Homo sapiens: one gene and its partners. The protein of the gene in region 3 purifies or fractionates together with the protein of the main gene of each other region. This does not show direct contact. Each region holds a gene or a part of one and is shown on either strand. Other genes may lie near its edges. The genes, in order: OBSL1, USP19 and CCDC117.

Region 1 (3,721 bases), on a different chromosome or scaffold from region 3:
GGGGAGTATGTGTGTGAGACCCGGCATGAGGCCATCACCTTCAATGTCATCCTGGCTGGTGGGTGCTCCTGGCCAACCCAGGGCAGGGAGGCAAGGGCAAGCATGGGATGACACCTTCCTCTCTTCTCCAGAGCCTCCAGTGCAGTTCCTTGCTCTAGAGACAACTCCAAGCCCGCTCTGTGTGGCCCCTGGGGAGCCAGTGGTGCTGAGCTGTGAACTGTCCCGGGCTGGCGCCCCCGTGGTCTGGAGCCACAATGGGAGGCCCGTGCAGGAGGGCGAGGGCCTAGAGCTCCATGCCGAGGGCCCCCGCCGAGTCCTCTGCATCCAGGCTGCAGGCCCAGCCCATGCAGGGCTCTACACCTGCCAGTCTGGAGCAGCCCCCGGAGCCCCAAGCCTCAGCTTCACCGTCCAGGTGGCTGGTGAGTACAGCCTGGGCATTAAGCCTGAGAGTGGCACCAAGCCTGAGAGTGGCACCCCAAACTCTGCGGGATTCCTGCTTTTCCAGCATGCCTTGCCCATCCCTGGCCCCACTTCTCTCAGTACCTTCCCCGTCATGCCTCCCCGTGCCCTCCTCAAAGCCCTGAGCCTCTCCCTCCCAGTGACCTCCAGCTCTGACTCCACAGAGCCCCCTGTGCGGGTGGTAGCTCCCGAGGCAGCCCAGACGAGGGTTCGGAGCACCCCAGGCGGGGACCTAGAGCTGGTGGTGCACCTCTCCGGGCCAGGGGGCCCTGTACGCTGGTACAAGGACGGGGAGCGACTGGCAAGCCAGGGGCGGGTGCAGCTGGAGCAGGCCGGGGCCAGGCAGGTGCTGCGGGTGCAGGGGGCACGGAGCGGGGACGCTGGGGAGTACCTGTGCGATGCGCCCCAGGACAGCCGCATCTTCCTTGTCAGCGTGGAAGGTAACAGTGTACCCCTCACACCCTGTGGGCTGTGGCACCCCAAGGACCATCTGCCACTTTCTAGGGCCCCCTTACTCCTCCACCCCCGCTTTGCTGCTTCTGGCTCCAACCAGTGCGTGCATGACCATCACTTGGATAGGGGCTCAGGGCTCCTCTTTCCAGAAACCCTCATGTTGAGAGCAGCATAAACCAGTGGTTAAAAGCAGGGGCTCTAGAGTCCACCCAGCCAGGTTCCAGCCTAGATTCTGTGCCCCAGTAGCTGTGTGACATTGGCCAAGTTGTTCAACCTGTCTGAGCCCCGGCTCTGAAAAGAGGGGATAGTGCTTTTCTTATAGGCCTGTTGTGACAAGTAAATGCTGTAAATAGGGTCCCTGGTAATTGATATTATTAGGGTGCCACCAAGGTGGGGTGCTAGGCTAGGATTATGAGGAACTGACTAAAAGGAGTGGCAGGGAGCTGGCATCTTGTCCTTTGGGCCATCGGTGTGGTCGATACATAGTAGGTCCTCACAGAAGGTCTGTTAAATGACTGGGGACGAGGGCCTGCATCCTGAGGAGGGGATGAAAAGGAGAGAGAAGAAAAGACTCAGCCCAGCTCACTGCCTTACCGTGCCCCTTAGAGCCACTGCTGGTGAAGCTGGTCTCGGAGCTGACACCACTCACTGTCCACGAGGGCGATGATGCCACGTTCCGGTGTGAAGTCTCCCCACCAGATGCCGATGTCACCTGGCTGCGCAATGGGGCCGTCGTCACTCCAGGGCCCCAGGTGGAGATGGCCCAGAATGGTTCAAGCCGCATCTTAACCTTGCGAGGCTGCCAACTGGGGGATGCAGGGACCGTGACTTTGCGGGCAGGGAGCACGGCCACAAGTGCCCGGCTCCATGTTCGAGGTTAGGTCCTGATGAGGATGAGATACTCTGTGTCCCGTGCCTGTACTCCCAACCAGGATTCCAGCAGCCTTGCCTCTCCACCTAGGGACAGACCAGTGGGATGGAGCAAGGGGCCAGCCTCCAACCCCACCAGACTCCATGGCCTCCTTCTTCCCCACCAGAGACAGAGCTGCTGTTCCTACGGCGGTTGCAGGATGTGCGGGCAGAGGAAGGCCAGGATGTGTGTCTCGAAGTGGAGACAGGCCGAGTGGGTGCAGCGGGGGCCGTGCGCTGGGTGCGAGGTGGGCAGCCCCTGCCCCACGACTCTCGCCTGTCCATGGCCCAGGATGGGCACATCCACCGCCTCTTCATCCATGGTGTCATACTGGCCGACCAGGGCACCTACGGCTGCGAGAGCCACCACGATCGCACCCTGGCCAGGCTCAGCGTGAGGCGTGAGTGCCCCGTCCTCTCTTAATGCATTACCCACCCTACACCACAGCCTTTTCTGGCTGTCCTGGAGTCCCTCAGGCCCCCACCAAAGTGCCCCTCATCGCTGAGAAAAGTCACCCATGGCCGTCCCAGCAGCAGCTTGCCCAAAGCAAAACTTTTCTTTTTCTAATATTTTTTATTTACCTTAGAAGTCCATGTGGATTTTGCATTCCATTGCATATTTCCAAGTCGGCTTTGCTATAAACACAAATATTCTCCAGAAAGACTTGCCATGGGCATCCTTCAGGCATGTATTCTAGGGATACACATACCCACTTAAGTAGCAGGGATGGCTGTCAAACAGCACCCCACACCTCCCACCCAAAGCTGGAGCCCTCTGTTTCCTATGTGACCTCATGCAAGTTAACCTCTTTGAGCCAAGTCTCCTTAAAAATGGGGCTGAGACCAGGTGCAGTGGCTCACGCCTATAATCCTAACACTTTGGGAGGCCAAGGCAGGAGGATCCCTTGAGGCCAGGAGTTCGAGGCCATCCTGGGCAACATAGCAAGAACCCATCTCCACAAAAAAAAATAAAAATTAGCCGGGCATGGTAGTTACTAGGGAGGCTGAGGCAGAAGGATTGCTTGAACCCAGGAGGTTGAGGCTATAGTGAGCTATGATCATGTCACGGCATTCCAGCCTGGGTGACAGCAAGACCCTGTCTCAAATTTTAAAAATGGGGTTGATCCCCGTCTCAAGTGTCTCTGGGAACATTAACTGAGATAACATGAAAATTCTTACACAGAGCTTGGTGAATGGTTGTCATTTGTGACACATCTCTTCTAACTTATTTCATTCAAGAAATCATCACAATAAACCTGTGTCCCAATGTTATTCACCTTGTACAGCTGGGGCAACTGGGGTCCAGAGAGGTCAGGCCATTTGCCAAAGATCACATAGCACACAAACTATGTGGTAGAGCGAGGTTCCATTCCTAGTGTGTCTGACTCCAAATTCCGTGCTCCTTCAAGTGTCACAGCACCCCTCACCCAGACTCCACGACCCCCTAACCACACTTCTCCCCCTTCCTGTGCCCTCATCTCCTAACCCTGATACAGCCCTCCCCCCGCCAAATCTGTCCACCGTGCTCCTTTCTTCCTGCACCCTGGTTCCGAACTTTTTTGGTCAGGACCTTAGGTTGGGTGTTCAGGGGTGTAGGCAGGGCCAAGGGATGAGGATTGACTGCAACCCCTGCCCAGAGCTGGAGGCCTCATCCTCCCTCTCTCCATCTCCCCCGGCCAGCGAGGCAGCTGAGGGTGCTGCGGCCTCTGGAGGACGTGACCATCAGTGAGGGGGGCAGTGCCACCTTCCAGCTGGAGCTGTCCCAGGAAGGTGTGACCGGGGAGTGGGCCCGGGGTGGAGTACAGCTGTATCCAGGACCCAAGTGTCACATCCACTCGGACGGCCACCGTCACCGACTGGTACTCAATGGCCTGGGCCTGGCCGACTCAGGCTGTGTCTC
Region 2 (3,721 bases), on a different chromosome or scaffold from region 3:
TTATCTCCCACTCTGTGTGCAGCTACCCAGTGCCACCTCTACATCCACAGGTCTCCATCACTTTTGACCCGTTTCTTTATCTGCCGGTGCCCTTGCCACAAAAGCAAAAGGTTCTCCCTGTCTTTTATTTTGCCCGAGAGCCCCACAGCAAGCCCATCAAGGTGAGGAGTAAGCCCCTACCCTCTGGGCTGTTCTAGAGAACGTGGCCCACCTCCCTCACTGACTGCCCTTTTTGCCACAGTTCCTGGTGAGCGTCAGCAAGGAGAACTCCACTGCGAGCGAAGTATTGGACTCCCTCTCTCAGAGTGTTCATGTGAAGCCTGAGAACCTGCGTTTGGCGGAGGTATCTTTGTCCTTCCTTGGGCTATCACATGTGTGGATGTGTGTGTGTACTCACCACAGACGTGTGTACAGTCATTGGCATCTACAGACATACACATGGGCTGGGCACAGTGGCTCATGCCTGTAGTCCCAGCACTTTGTGAGGCCGAGGTGGGCAGATCACTTGAGCCCAGGAGTTTGGGACCAGCCTGGGCAACTTGGTGAAACACTGTCTCTACAAGAAATAAAATTAGCTGGGCATGGTGGTACGTGTTATAGTCCCAGCTACTTGGGAGGCTGAGGCAAGAGGCTCACTTGAGCCCGGGATGTGGAGGTTGCAGTGAGCAGAGATTGCACCACAGCACTCCAGCCTGGGTGACAGAGTGAGACTCTGTCTCAAAAATAAATAAATAAATAGATAAAAAAATAAAAATAGGGCCAGGCGTGGTGGCTCATGCCTGTAATCCCAGCTCTTTGGGAGGCCAAGGCTGATGGATCACAAGGTCAGGAGATCCAGACCACCCTGGCTTACATGGTGAAACCCCACCTCTACTAAAAATACAGGAAAAGTTAGCCGGGCGTGGTGGCACATGTCTGTAGTCCCAGCTGCTCAGGAGGCTGAGGCAGGAGAATCGCTTGAACCTGGGAGGCAGAGGTTGCAGTGAGCCGAGATCGCGCCACTGCACTCCAGCCTGGGTGACAGAGTGAGACTCTGTCTCAAAAATAAAATAAAATAAAATAAAAATAGACATACACATGAGTATGCCTGTGACTGTACAAAAACAGGCGATGTGCTGTTATTTTTTCTGTGCAACAGAAGTGCCCTCAGTTCCTAGCCATTATCAGGGTTTATTCCCCTTTGTGGTGGTGGATCCCAACTGCATTTCCCTTTTTAGACAAGGAGCTTGAGCTGCAGGACTATCCCTATGTTCGCTCTGCCTCTCCCTCTATCCTGCTGCTCTCTCCTTTTATCCCAGTTGTGTGTGCTAGCTCTCCCCAGGGGTTCCTAGCCTTTAGCCTGACAGTGTTGGTTTTCTTAGGGGTAAGAGTGGGGAGGAGGCTCTTTGAATGTGGACCCTCCATGATAATATGTTACAGTCTTATAAGGCTATGCTAGTTATAGCAGGGCAGAGTCCCTCAGTGTGGAGAGCTGGTGTGGTTGATATCTGCCTCACACCTGGTCTTTCAGGCCCTCTGATGCACCAGGCTCCTTATGGCATTGGGCACTGAGACAGGTGCCAGCAGAGGCATAAGCCTATTTGGGCCTACAGACCTCACCACTGCCCACATAGACCCAAGGCAGGGCCAAGCCTTCTTAAACTCTGGGGCAGGGCTAGGGAAAGGGCTTATCCTCACGTGGGATCTGTGTGTTCTCTGTCCCCAGGTAATTAAGAATCGTTTTCATCGTGTGTTCCTACCCTCCCACTCACTGGACACTGTGTCCCCATCTGATACGCTCCTCTGCTTTGAGCTGCTATCCTCAGAGTTGGCTAAGGAGCGGGTAGTGGTGCTAGAGGTGCAACAGGTGAGTGGGGGCCAACCTGATGGCACAGCGCCCTGGTGGGTGGGGCACTTCTTCCTGGTCTTGCTGAGCCAGACGACCCACCCTAGCGCCCCCAGGTGCCCAGCGTCCCCATCTCCAAGTGTGCAGCCTGCCAGCGGAAGCAACAGTCGGAGGATGAAAAGCTGAAGCGCTGTACCCGGTGCTACCGTGTGGGCTACTGCAACCAGTGAGGACCCCCATGGTCTCCCCTACCCTTTCTTTCCACCTTCCATGTGCCACCCTGCTCCTTCCCTTCACACCAAGGCACATATGCTTAAGCTTTCTACTTGCCACCCTACTTTACCAGGCTCTGGGGGAGGCAGGGCTGGCGTACCCAGTTCCCAGGGACTATGACTAGCCCCCAGTATGGAGTCATAGGAGATGGGGCTAAGGGCCTATCCTTGTCTTCCTCTTCCCGTCAGGCTCTGCCAGAAAACCCACTGGCCTGACCACAAGGGCCTCTGCCGACCTGAGAACATTGGCTACCCCTTCCTGGTCAGTGTACCTGCCTCACGCCTCACTTATGCCCGCCTCGCTCAGTTGCTAGAGGGCTATGCCCGGTAAGTGCCCAGTGGTTGGACTAGAGTGGTGTAGGTGGGGGCAGAGGTGCTAGATGGGCTGGTCAGGAGTCTTACTTGCGTTGTTCTCTGTTGCCAGGTACTCTGTGAGTGTATTCCAGCCACCCTTTCAGCCAGGCCGCATGGCCTTGGAGTCTCAGAGCCCTGGCTGCACCACACTGCTCTCCACAGGTTCCCTGGAGGCTGGGGACAGCGAGAGAGACCCCATTCAGCCACCTGAGCTCCAGCTGGTGACCCCTATGGCTGAGGGGGACACAGGGCTTCCCCGGGTGTGGGCAGCCCCTGACCGGGGTCCTGTGCCCAGCACCAGTGGAATTTCTTCTGAGATGCTGGCCAGTGGGCCCATTGAGGTTGGCTCCTTGCCAGCTGGCGAGAGGGTGTCCCGACCCGAAGGTAAGATCCAGTGAAAGGCTCTAGAAGCTGGGGAGGAGGATAAGGGAGGATGGAGGGGGCTGTTGTTTAGGGCCTGGTGGGCCTGGTGAGGCCCTGATGGGCAGGGAAGCTTTGATTATCATGTTCTCACACAGCTGCTGTGCCTGGGTACCAGCATCCAAGTGAAGCTATGAATGCCCACACACCCCAGTTCTTCATCTATAAAATTGATTCATCCAACCGAGAGCAGCGGCTAGAGGACAAAGGTGTCTGAGGCTGTGGGTGGGAGCCATGGGGTGGGTTGAGCTGGCTGTTCTCCACAGCTGCATGACCTCTCTCCCTGCGAATCTCCAGGAGACACCCCACTGGAGCTGGGTGACGACTGTAGCCTGGCTCTCGTCTGGCGGAACAATGAGCGCTTGCAGGAGTTTGTGTTGGTAGCCTCCAAGGAGCTGGAATGTGCTGAGGATCCAGGCTCTGCCGGTGAGGCTGCCCGGGCCGGCCACTTCACCCTGGACCAGTGCCTCAACCTCTTCACACGGCCTGAGGTGCTGGCACCCGAGGAGGCCTGGTGAGAACAGAGCAGCAAGTAGATAAGGGGGCAGGATGGAGAAGAGAGAGACTTGCTGGTCCTGACCCAATCTCTGTCCCCACCAGGTACTGCCCACAGTGCAAACAGCACCGTGAGGCCTCCAAGCAGCTGTTGCTATGGCGCCTGCCAAATGTTCTCATCGTGCAGCTCAAGCGCTTCTCCTTTCGTAGTTTTATCTGGCGTGACAAGATCAATGACTTGGTGGAGTTCCCTGTTAGGTAAGCAGTGGACCTTGGTAACTGTGGGTGGGGTGTGAGGACCAGGATGGGCATCCTGAGCGCCTGTTGCCTGTCTCACCCCTCCCTGACTGGACCT
Region 3 (3,500 bases):
CCAGAGGGCTGGGATTACAGGCATGAGCCATTGCACCCGGCCTTTTTTTGTATATTTAGTAGAGACAGGGTTTTGTGATGTTGGCCAGGCTGGTCTGGAGCTTCTGGCCTCAGGTGATCTGCCTATCTCAGCCTCCTTAAGTACTGGGATTACAAGTGTGAGCCACCACGCCCGGCCCCGAAGTATGTGCTTTTAAAGTGAATTCTTCTCATAGAACTACTGAGCGTTTTCACTTACTGCCTCTGAGTATTAATTTTGGTTTATGTGATAATTCTCTGAAATATTATTCAGATTTGATTATATGTAAAACTTTTTCGTTAAATGAAATGTTGAACAACCCTCTGAGTATAGTTTTTTTTTGTTTTGAGACGGAGTCTTGCTCTGTTGCCCACGCTGGTGTGCAATGGCACGATCTTGGTTCACTGCAACCTCCGCCTCCCGGGTTCAAGTGATTCTCCTGCCTCAGCCTCCTGAGTAGCCGGATTACAGGCATGTGTCACCACACCCGACAAATTTTTCTATTTTTAGTAGAGATAGGGTTTCACCATGTTGGCCAGGCTCTTCTCGAACTCCTAACCTCAGGTGATCTGCCCGCCTCGGCCTCCCAAAGTGCTGGGATTACAGGTGTGAGCCACCACACCCGGCCTGAGTATACCTTTTATACTCAGGTATAGCCTCATTTTTTGCTTGTTCTATTGCTGTATTACTTACTGCTTTTATCCTTTTTTATTTTTAAAATTTTGTCCAAATACTAGAATATATAATAGCTTGACTAAATATTTTTTCTTTCTTCTGCTGCCTTAATTGATTTAGGATAATTGATGAAGATGAAGAAGTTGAAGCTGACAGAAATGTTAACCATCTCCCCAGTCTTGTCCTTTCTGATACCATGAAAACAGGTTTGAAGAGGGAATTTGATGAAGTTTTTACAAAGAAAATGATTGAGTCTATGTAAGTTTTGGTACCTGATTTCTATTTAATTATGATCTTGGAGGGAAGACCCAATGTCTAGATTCTGCCCACCCTGTCCTCATTAGCTCTTTTTATCTCCTGATCCCCAGGCAATTGGAGATTGGCTTTTTCCTAGTTCATTAGGGGTGAGCAAAGTGCTTTACAAGCAGGAGTTTGAAGTATGGGGAAGTGGCTGCCTTGCCTACTTACTCTTTGGTTCCTTTGAAGACCTGAAATGGACTGCAGTCTGCTATTTGGAAATGAGATGACTGGCAAGAGAGCCCACTCTCAAGTTCCTGTGATACAGGAACCACATTTTAAAGGCTCTTGTTTACCTGGCTTTCTAAGTGACCCAGGAACAACACTGCGGCCTAGGAAAAAAAATAAAGTGGCCCAACAGTGAAAGCAGTTGCTGCAAAGACTGCAAAACAAAGCTCATATTCTTGGCTCATAGCATAGTCCTTCCAGGCCTTTAGCAGAACTGTTTTGCTCTTAATCTAAACACAGTTTATGAGCTCAGTTATCTGGTTTCCTAGATCATCAGAGTAGAAGCAGAAACAGCAAATGAGAGCAGAACAAACAAAACTCCTAACAGGGAGCTGTGACTACACTGTGAGGACAAGAGAGGAAACTGGAAAGCAAACACAATAACCTAAAAAGTAAAGTGGCCTGGGGCCCCTGAGTAATGATTAGCCCAGCTCTAATCCTGTAGTCCGTGAAGCCTCCGTGATCTCAAATTGTCATTATTCACTATGTAAAATAGTAAGGAAGTTAGTTATAAAGTGCCTAGGAAAGACTTTAGATCGAGTTGGCACTCAATAAGGGCAAGTTTCAGGTATCTGAAAAAGCCTCTTAGGACACCAGTCAGTGAGGGCAGATAGGTGAGGCATTATTACCTTTGGATACAGTGGAGATGATTTGTGCTAGAAGTTCAGCTGCTATTTGGTCTTTGATCACAGAGGTTTTGCATTAGGGTCCTATCTTGAGCTTATAATTAAGTACCCATCCCTAAGGGTGGGTAAATAGCCAGAAGTAAGCTGGTCACGTTGCCCTCCAGCCTAAAATATAGCACTTTCTGCTTTTGGTAGTTTTCCAGAAGCTAGCCTTTGAGGGTATCTCGTTTTTTTTGTTGTTGTTGTTGTTGAGATGGAGTCTCGCTCTGTTGCCCAGGCTGGAGTGCAGTGGCCTGATCTTGGCTCACTGCAAGCTCCGCCTCCCGGGTTCACGCCATTCTCCTGCTCAGCCTCCCGAGTAGCTGGGACTACAGGCGCCTGCCACCTTGCCCGGCTAGTTTTTTGTATTTTTAGTAGAGTTGGAGTTTTCACCATGTTAGCCAGGATGGTCTCGATCTCCTGACCTTGTGATCCACCCTCTTCGGCCTCCCAAAGTGCTGGGATTACAGGCGTGAGCCACCGCGCCCAGCCAAGGGTATCTCATTATTTTATGTTTTATTTTTGCTTCGTCTTTGGGCCCATACACCATCCCTGCCACAGTGTGTGTGTAACATAGTCATTTTGCCTTAACCATGAAGCTTGTTTTGTTTTGTTTTGTTTTGTGTTTTGAGACAGGGTCTCACTCTGTCACCCAGGCTGGAGTGTAGTGGCATGATCACAGCTCACCACAGCCTTGACCTCCTGGGCTCAGGTGATACTCCCACCTCAGCCTCCCGAGTAGCTGGGACTACAGTCACCTGCTACCACACCCAGCTAATTTTTGTATTTTTTGTAGAGACGGGGTTCACCACATTGCCCGGGCTGGTTGCAAACTCCTGGGCTCAAACCATCTGCCTGGCTTGGCCTCCCAAAGTGCTAGGATTACAGGCATGAGCCACTGTGCCTGGCCCATAAAGCATTATACTTTGTACCTATACTAAAAGGCATCTGAGATACTTTCAGCATGTTTGTCCAGTGTTTCCTTTTCATTTATAATGATTTAGTATGAGCTAGCTGCCTACATGTAATATTAACCACAACTTAAAAAAATTTCCAACAATCAAGGGCTCTGCGTTTTCATATTGGATTTTTAAATACTTCCAATCACAGCATCATTACAACCACTTGATTTGGTTAAATATACATGTTGAAGTGTGCAATGTTATGTATTTGAGGGGCCTTTCTAAAGATCAGTTGGAGCCAGGCATGGTGGTATGTGCCTGTAGTCCTAATTACTGGGAAGGCTGAAGTGGGTAGATTGCTTGACCCCAGGAGTTAAAGGCTGCGGTGAGCTATGACTGTACCACTGTACTCCACTGTGGACAACACAGCAAGACCCCATCTCTTAAAAAAAAAAAAAAAAAGAAAGTAAAGATCAGTTTGTGTGTTCTAAATCTCCTGTTTTGCTATCATCAGTCCTTAAGATACTAGGTAATGTTGGCTTTTCAACCTACAGCTTTTGTTTTCATGTCCTAAAATTTTTTGATAAAAGTCTGTATTTTATGTCTTAGGAGCCGTCCTTCCATGGAGCTTGTTCTCTGGAAACCCCTCCCTGAACTCCTTTCTGATAAGCCAAAGCCATCCTCTAATACTAAGAACTATACAGGAGAGAGCCAA

What was found.
Region 1: the proteins of CCDC117 (region 3) and OBSL1 purify together in Homo sapiens (affinity purification with mass spectrometry; 2 studies listed by BioGRID and IntAct, with this or other methods). This does not show direct contact.
Region 2: the proteins of CCDC117 (region 3) and USP19 purify together in Homo sapiens (affinity purification with mass spectrometry; one large-scale study listed by BioGRID and IntAct). This does not show direct contact.

What each region holds. Positions count from the first base shown.
Region 1 is NC_000002.12:219,554,521-219,558,241, reverse strand, and holds part of OBSL1 (obscurin-like protein 1 isoform 1 precursor), read left to right. Parts: coding exon 1-58; intron 59-131; coding exon 132-419; intron 420-623; coding exon 624-899; intron 900-1,518; coding exon 1,519-1,788; intron 1,789-1,949; coding exon 1,950-2,222; coding exon of another isoform or gene 2,223-2,245; exon of another isoform or gene 2,246-3,093; intron 3,094-3,501; coding exon 3,502-3,721. UniProt on the Homo sapiens protein: Core component of the 3M complex, a complex required to regulate microtubule dynamics and genome integrity. It is unclear how the 3M complex regulates microtubules, it could act by controlling the level of a microtubule stabilizer.
Region 2 is NC_000003.12:49,110,614-49,114,334, reverse strand, and holds part of USP19 (ubiquitin carboxyl-terminal hydrolase 19), read left to right. Parts: intron 1-50; coding exon 51-161; intron 162-241; coding exon 242-343; intron 344-1,705; coding exon 1,706-1,846; intron 1,847-1,932; coding exon 1,933-2,051; intron 2,052-2,286; coding exon 2,287-2,424; intron 2,425-2,521; coding exon 2,522-2,835; intron 2,836-2,969; coding exon 2,970-3,080; intron 3,081-3,168; coding exon 3,169-3,385; intron 3,386-3,471; coding exon 3,472-3,624; intron 3,625-3,721. UniProt on the Homo sapiens protein: Deubiquitinating enzyme that regulates the degradation of various proteins by removing ubiquitin moieties, thereby preventing their proteasomal degradation. Stabilizes RNF123, which promotes CDKN1B degradation and contributes to cell proliferation.
Region 3 is NC_000022.11:28,782,695-28,786,194, forward strand, and holds part of CCDC117 (coiled-coil domain-containing protein 117), read left to right. Parts: intron 1-813; coding exon 814-951; intron 952-3,394; coding exon 3,395-3,500. UniProt on the Homo sapiens protein: Facilitates DNA repair, cell cycle progression, and cell proliferation through its interaction with CIAO2B.